2 separate regions of the Homo sapiens genome follow, and region 1 is linked to region 2. The links come from fine-mapping of genetic effects on gene expression. A gene starts in region 2. The other region holds a variant in brackets. All regions are shown on one strand. Distances are between the middles of the regions.

Evidence for each region. PIP is the estimated chance that this variant, and not a neighbour inherited with it, causes the effect. A credible set is the group of variants that fine-mapping cannot tell apart.
Region 1: its variant is the best candidate, but not a certain one, in a credible set for the expression of CMA1 in unexposed skin (GTEx, PIP 0.50).

The regions. Positions count from the first base shown.
Region 1 is chr14:24,595,421-24,599,603 of GRCh38, forward strand. No RefSeq gene overlaps it. Among named protein-coding and RNA genes, the nearest start is that of GZMH, 12 kb to the right of the region's middle. The variant A/G (reference allele first, on the strand shown) is at 1,912.
Region 2 is chr14:24,506,572-24,510,754 of GRCh38, forward strand. CMA1 (chymase 1) reads right to left here and starts at 1,694. Exons shown (of 5, transcript NM_001836.5): 1 at 1,607-1,694; 2 at 785-935; 3 at 1-33. The coding sequence starts at 1,664. RefSeq lists an enhancer at 303-1,502.

The DNA of each region.
Region 1 (4,183 bases), 89 kb after region 2:
GACTCTCCTTGGGTGGGTTTTGCTGTGGCTGCTGTGGGGAATAGGGGTGAACTTCCCATGTCAATGGAATTGTGTACCTAGGAGGATTAGGGCTGCCTCTGCTGAGTCATGCAGGTTGTCCAGGGAAGTGGGGGAAAGTCAGCAGTCAAAGGCGTCATGCAGCTCCTATGCAAATCGAAGGGCTGATCTCATTCCAACTGTGCCCCAAATAACAACCCTGAGTCTGTTTCCAGGCAGTGGGTGAGCTGGGCATGAGAACTTGCCCCAGGCTACCTCTTCCAGCTGTGAAAGAAAAGGGCTTCAGTTCTTCCCCAGGCTGTGGAGTCTGCACACTGGATTCATGACCTCCCCCAAGTTCTGGCCAGGAAGCTTCTTGCCCAATTCAAATTGTTGCAAAGTTCAGCTGGAGATTTCCTTCTTCCTGTGGCATTTTCCTGTTGCTCCTCTGGCCACCCTCCCAATGGATCCGTGTGGTCCCTGGCAGGAATGTCTTGCTTGGGGACCGAGTGAGCTCTTAGAGCCTTTCTGCTGCTTCCTCTACCCCTGTATTTTACTCAGCTCTCTAAATTGACTCAGTGCCAGGTAAGGTTGGAAACTTCTCCCACAAACAGAGCTTCAGTTTCTTCAGTAGGGATGTGTGTTAAGGAGAGGAGGATCTCCCCTTTCCACTTCCACAGTTGGGGCACTCACAGTATTTGTGGTGTCTCCCGGGCCCTGCGGGAGCAGTATGCTTCTTTCAGAGGTCTGTGGGTCCTCTTGGGATTGCTGGTTTGTTCTTGCCATTGATATGGAGAAAAAATTCACAGTGTGACCCTCCACAGGCTGCTCTGTCTGTCCGAGTTGGAGCTGCAATCTAGTCCTGCCTCCCGTCTGCCATGATGATTTCTAGATGTCTTTTCTTTTCTTTGTGTCATCTTCATTTTATTTTATCAGTGTTTTCTAGTTTTCAGTGTAGAGTTCTTCTTTCACCTCTTTCATTAAATTTGTTCCTTAAATATTGAATTTTTTGGTGGCTATGGTGAATAGGATTGCTATCTTGATTTCTTTTTCTGCTAATTTTTATTGGTATATAGAAATGCTATTAATTTTTGTATGTTGATTTACTAAATTTGTTTATAATTTCTAAGAGTTTTTTTATGAAGTTCTTAGCTTTTTCTTTATTTCAGATTGTAATGTCTCCTTTTTTGTTTTTGCTTTCATTTATTTGGGTTTTCTTTCTTTTTTTCATAGTCTAGCTAATGGTTTGTTGCTTTTGTTTATCTTTTCAAAAAGCCAAGTTTTTGTTTTGCTGTCCTTTTCTATCTTTTTCTCTATTTCATTTAGCTCCTCTCGTTTTTTATTATTTATTTTCTTCTACTAATTTTGATTTTGGTTTGTTCTTGCTTTTCTGATTCCTTAGGTGCATTTCCAGGTTGTTTATGTGAAACCTTTCTACTTTTTTGATGTAGTGTTTGTTACTATAATCTTCCCTTTTAATATTGCTTTTGCTTATCACATAGGTTTGGTATGTTTTGTTTCCATTTTCATTCATTTCAAAAACTTTTTTGATTTCTCCCTTGATCCAATGGTTGCTCAGGATGTTTTTAAATTTCCATGTATTTGCATAGTTTCCAAAGTTGTTCTTGTTTTTGATTTTTATTTTTATTCTATTGTGGTCTGAGAAGATACTTGATATGCTTTTGATTTTTAAAAATTTATTGAGGCTTGCTTTATGGCCTAACATGTGGTCTTTCCTGGAGAATGTTGCATGTATTGATGAGAAGAGTGTGTATTCTGCATCGGTTGGATAAAGTGATCTGTAGATGTCTGTTAGGTCCATGGCCTACAGTGTGGTTGAAATCCAATGGTTCTTTTTTGACTTTCTGTCTAGATGACCAGTCCAATGCTGAAAGTAGGGTGTTAGAGTCTCCA[A/G]CTATTGTTTTGGCATCTATCTTTCCCTTTAAATCTAATAATATTTGCTTTATATCTTGGTGCTCCAGTGTTGAGTGCATATATATTTGTAATTGTTATATTCTTTTGCTGAGCTGATCCCTTTGTGATTATATAATGACCTTCTTTGTCCCTTTTTACTGTTTTTGACTTACAGTCTGTCTTATTTGATATAAGTATAGCTACACCTGCTTGCTTTTGGTTTCCATTTATGTGGAATATCTTTTTTTCATCCTTTCACTTTCAGTCTACATGTCTTTACAGGTGAAGTAAGTTTCTTGTAGGAAGGATATAGTTGGATCATGTTTTTAAAAATCCATTCAGCCAATCTGTGTTTTCAGTGGGGAATTTAATCTGTTTATGTTCAAGGTTATTGTTGATAGGTGAGAATTTATTTCTGTCATTTTGTTTATTATTTTCTGTTTTTTTGTATATGTTTTATTCCTTTCTTTCTCCCTTGTTGTTTATAATTGTGATTTGAATGTTTTCTGTAGTGGCAATATTTTAGTCGTTTCTTTTCTCATTTGTACATCTTTTCTACCAGTGAGTTTTATACTTTCATGTGTTTTCATGATGCTAAATATTCTTTCACTTCCAGATGTAGGGCTCCCTTAAGCATTTGTTTTAGGACTAGTCTAGAGGTGATCAATTCCCACAGTGTTTTCTTGTCTGGGAAAAGCCTTGTATCGCCTTCATTTTGGAAGAATAGCTTTTCTGAGTATAGTATCCTTGACTGCTAGATTTTTTTTTCTTTTTCAGTAATTTGAATATATCATCCCATTCTCCTGGTCTGTAAGGTGTCTGCTGAGAAACACACTTTTAGTCTGATGGGGGTTCCCTTTCAAGTGACTACATGCTTTTCTCTTGCTGCTTTTAAAAAATCTCTCTTTGTCTTTCACTTTTGACATTTGACTATAATGTACCTTGATGAAAACCTTTTTGGTTAGATCTATTAGGTTGGTGCAAGAGCAATTGTGGTTTTGTCATTAAAAGTAATAGCAAAATCCCAATTTCTTGTACTTTCTCTGTCTTTTTTTTTACTTTAAGTTCTGGGATACACGTGTGGAATGTGCAGGTTTGTTACATAGGTATACATGTGTCATGGTGGTTTGCTGCATCTATCAACACGTCATCTAGGCTTTAAGCCCCTCATGCATTAGGTATTTGTCCTACTGCTCTCACTGCCCTTGCCCCCAATCCCCTGACAGGCCCCAGTGTGTGATGTTACCCTCCCTGTGTCCATGTGTTCTCATCGTCAGCTCCCACTTATAAGTGAGAACATGTGGTGTTTTGTTTTCTGTTCCTGTGTTAGTTTGCTGAGAATGATGGTTTCCAGCTTCATCCATATCCCTGCAAAGCACATGAACTCATCCTTTGTTATGGCTGCATAGTATTCCATGGTGTATATGTGCCACATTTTCTTTATCCAGTCTATCATTGATGGGCATTTGGGTTGGTTCCAAGTCTTTGCTATTGCAAATAATGCTGCAATAAACATAAGTGTGCATGTGTCTTTATAGTAGAATGATTTCTAATCCTTTGGGTATATGGCCCATAATGGGATTGTTGGGTCAAATGGTATTTCTGGTTCTAGATCCTTGAAGAATCACCACACTGTCTTCCACAATGGTTGAACTAATTTATGCTCCCACCAATACTGTAAAAGCGTTCTCATTTCTCTACCTCCTCTCCAGCATCTGTTGTTTCCTGATTTTTTAATGATTGCCATTCTAACTGGCATGAGACGCTGTCACATTGTGGTTTTGATTTGCATTTCTCTAATGACCTGCGATGATGAGCTTTTTTTCATGTTTGTTGGCCTCATAAATGTCTTCTTTTGAGAAGTGTCTGTTCATATACTTTGCTCATTGTTCATGGGGTTGTTTGTTTTTTTCTTGTAAATTTGTTTAAATTCCTTGTAGATTCTGGATATTAGAACTTTGTTGGATGAATAGATTTCAACAATTTTCTCCCATTCTCTAGGTTGTCTGTTCACTCTGATGATGGTTTCTTTTGCTGTGCAGAAGCTCTTTAGTTTGATTAGATCCCATTTGTCAATTTTGGCTTTTGTTGCAATTGCTTTTAGTGTTTTAGTCATGAAGTCTTTGCCCATATCTATGTCCTGAGTGGTATTGCCTAGGTTTTCTTCTAGGGTTTTTATGGTTTTGGGTGTTACATTTAAGTCTTTAATCCATCTTGAGTTAATTTTTGTATAAGTTGTAAGGAAGGAGTCCAATTTCTGTTTTCTGCATAT
Region 2 (4,183 bases):
ATGTTATGGGCTCCAAGGGTGACTGTTATAGACCTGTTGTGAGGAAGAAGGAAGGAAAAGGAGCGACAGTGATGGCTTGGGGTTTCTTCTGAGGTGAGCTCATTCTGAGAAAAGAGGACTAAACTCTGTCACTGGGTCGCCGGACTCTACCCATCTCCCTTTTCATGGGCCACTTGTGGCATTTGAGGGCTCAGGCTTAACTCATGAAAGAGCTTTCTCAGGAAACAGACACAATTTCTACGACCCCTGGAATTGCTGGGGACTGAACAGGCCAGGGAGGACTCAGGGGACAGGGTTCACACTTCCTAATTCAGGGAACCCTGCATGAGGGCCAGCCCCTGAAGCAGGAGATATCAGTTAAACGGGAAAGTGGGGGTCTCATGTAGACCCTGTTCTCTGCCTCCCATAAAATGATGGGTTCAGGACCCTGAGAACTAGAGGCCAGTGTTCTTGAAAAGGCCATAGAGGAAGTGGCCCTGAGACTGGGTGGGGCCCTGAAAAGTGAGCCGTGTGTCTTGAGTTGGGTAGGGGTGAGGGGTGCTACTGCAACAAGAGGGACCTTGGACAGGACCTCCTTTTCCTCCGAAGGGGAGCTTAGCTCACAGTGACTGAGGCTCAAGGAACTATTCAAACACAGACTAAAGTCTTTCAGCCCAAGTCTTCCCTCTCCTGAAAGTTGACAAGACCCAGGACCCCCTCTTCAGTCCCCAGTGCAGGTGTATTCCTGGATGCTACTCTGGTTGTTCATCTCCCATTTGGAGATAAATAGACCCTGTTGTCTCACCTTCCTGCACAATGAGCAGCCGTCAGCACAAAGTTCCGTCTTATAAGGAAACCACCACAAAATTTTGAGGGACCGTTGGAAGTTACAATTTCCAGGTAGGCCATGTAGGGGCGGGAATGTGGCTTGCATTCTGTGCCCCCGATGATCTCCCCTGGAACAGAGCACCCCAGGGTTTGAACACGGCCATAGATACTCTCTCCAATGAATGGACAAATTGGGTTAAAGCTGAGCTAGGCTTCCCTGGAATCTCATTCTCACCCTGTGTTCCGCCCATCTTCCCTCTCCTGTCTCCTGTATTTCGTATCTTTCCCCACCCATAACCTCCCAGGTGAAATCTCATTCTTGCCTCTGCTCCATTCTGATGTTTTCATCTCAGACTTCTCCCACTCCCACCTTGCCCTGGCCCACCCTCCTCTGTCTCTGTGTAGGACCCACTGTCCAGGTTCCTGTTTTAGATTTCTCCATAGCTCTTGAGCATGGTCACAGAGTGAGAAAGTCACAAAGTAATGGGTAGCCCTGATGCTCAGAAGATTAAGAGGACATGTCTGTTTTCCTGGGGATACCCCTTTTCCTTCCACTTGCTCTGGGCTTTTCTACAATTGAGGTGAAATTCCTTGTTCCTGGGGGCTGTCCTAGGCTGTAGAGAATGGCAGTGGGTGGGGGTGGGGGTGGGGTGGCACACATCCCAAGTGGAAATTTCCCTCTGGGACTCTTGAAGAGAGATCTTGGAACCCTGTTTAGGAGTCAGCTATTTTCAGACTAAACATCTTTGTTTCAGGAGCTGATACTGCAGATTTCAGAGGGAAGAACCCTGATACTCACCAGCTTCAGCTCTGGAGCACAAGAGAAAGAGCAGCAGGGGGAGAGGAAGAAGCAGCATCTTCCCAGAGAGGCTGCCTGAGCAAATGCTGGTTTTCCTTTCCAGTCTTGGGTTTTATAACTCCCAGAAGGCAAGAGAGGGGCAAGGCTGGTAACCACAGGAACTGCATGGTCACGTTTTCTTCTCTCACTCTGAATTGGCTGTTTCTGATCAGAAGTTCCCCTAGAATCACCCAGTGTTTTTCTAGAAAGGAACTTGAGCCCTGAACTCCCAAGTGCTGGCTTCTCAGATGTACCCTCAACTATGGTGACTTTTCTGGAGTTGGGGGCAGGAAATGGAGGGACCATGTTTTTCTTTCCCAATTAGGGCAGCTTGTGAAAGGCCCACTGAACGTTCAGTGCAAAGACTTTTATGGCTATGTTCCATAGTCAGAAATGCATATTGCAGAGTCCCAGTGCATGCACATATGTATGTGTGAGTATGTAAGCACAAATTAAAGGTTTCAGGAAACAATCTTTATCTTAACCATGTGCAGTGTTTTCTGTTAGTTTCCATTCCACTCCACTCCACTCCATTCCACTACACGTCAAAACTTGAGCAACAACCCCATTTAAATGATAATTCCTTGTAATTTGAAAAACATTGACCTGGATCTCTCTCCTCCTCTGAACCACATGTTTTTGACAGAAGAGAGATCCAAGGAGGGTAGATGTGGGAAAAGAACAGACCCTAGGACAGAACTTTATGCAAAGAGCAATTGGGATTGGAATTAGCATTTTCTGAGAGTCTAGGTGTATCATATATTGTCACAACTCTTAGATATATTATTACTTTCACGGCAACCCTATCAATATGTATTACCATTATGATCATTATCATGTCATGATAGTCAATTTTTTAAATCAGCTATCATAGCTTATGGTTCAGAAATAGATTTTCCTGATATCAAATCAAGGTCCCTTTCTGCTCTAGCACTAGAGAGAAATAGAGGAATAGAGTCCTGCCAATGTGCAGGGGAAGTAAAGATGTAGAAGGGTGTTTGCTCCAGAGAGGTTGGGGTTTCCTACTGTTGCATTAAGAATCAAGCTTTCCACAACAACCTGGGGACACACCATTACTGTCACTTTACAATTGTAGAATTGATACTCAGACCCATTAACATGACAAAGATCACACACCTTATAATATCAGAAGTGGGTTTCAAGCACATAGCTTTTATTTTCCCTGGACTTACAGAAAGCAGTCCACATGGTGGACTGTCATTTCTCTTGGAGATTTATAAGGCATTTAGTTCAAAGACGGGGATGAGTAGTGTATAAGTGCCTTTCCCAAATCATCTCACTATGCCCTTGGTCTCAGGTTGGGCTTGTGACCAGAGTGATCCACTCCTTAGTATATATTGGCCAGGTCCTCTGTTGCTTTTAACTTAATTTCCCAAGTTCTACCTACAGCTCTAACTCTCTCTAGAATAAGACATTTAAACACATCCGTAATGTCTTTTCAAATCTGGTCTTCTTAAGTGTCCTTGTACCACTTTCTTCACTCTCTCGGGGGTTGCCAGAGAATATTCAGAATGCCCAGTTAAATTTGTATTTCAGATGAACAACAAATCATTTTTTAGTTAAGTATGTCCAAATATTGAATGGGACACACTAATACTAAAAAATTGTTGTTTATCTAAAATTTGAATTTAACTGGAATCCTGTATTTTTTATTTGCCAAAGTTGGCAACTCTTCTCTGGGCATTTCACCATTAACAGAACAGAAGAGAATCCGGAGCTGGAGAACTCTTGTCTTGTGGTCTTACATCAGTTAGACCAAAAAATCAGAGGCTTAAACAAATCAAAGCTGTTTGCTTTCACTGATATAATTAGAAATTGAGAGGCAGGTAGTCTGGGGCTAGTAAGACAGCTCCACAGCATCAAGATTCAGATCCACCAAGACTTAAGTTTTGCTCCACCTGCCTGGCTGAGGGTGAGGAAATGGAATAGGTATAGCCCCAGTCAGGGGACCAATTTCAGAAACGAGGACTGCGCTATCTGCTCACATTTCCTTCTTTGCTTTGTCATATGTATACCTGTGTATTTTAAGAGATTTCCTTTTTCTCTTTCTTCTTCCCCCTTTGGTTATTTTATATATAGCATGTTGGTAGTGAACTTTATGGTTTAGGGTACAGTTATCAAGTTGGGAGACTAGAGAATATCAAATTGAAAATGTGACCAAACTATTGTTGGAGCAGGTATCACCTAGAGACACAGTACTTGAAGTTAAAAGCAGTAACTGTTGAGACTGGGTTATTTCAGTTCTGCTGAGTCAAGTCTAATTTTCCTTTATATAAAAGATGGTAAAGATTATGTTCAGTGGGATAATTTTTGTTCTTGGAAACTTTAAGTGTGGCAAAAGAATGAATGTTGATGTGGGGCAACCAAGTGATGGATTGTAGTGGACATTTTCCATTTATATGGCTCCTTAATGTCTCTGGAACACCCTTCCTGTATTAGAGGAATTCCCAATGATAACTTTGCCTTACTAAGGTAGAATCCACAAACTTCCATTCCCAGTTTCTCTTGCATTTAGGT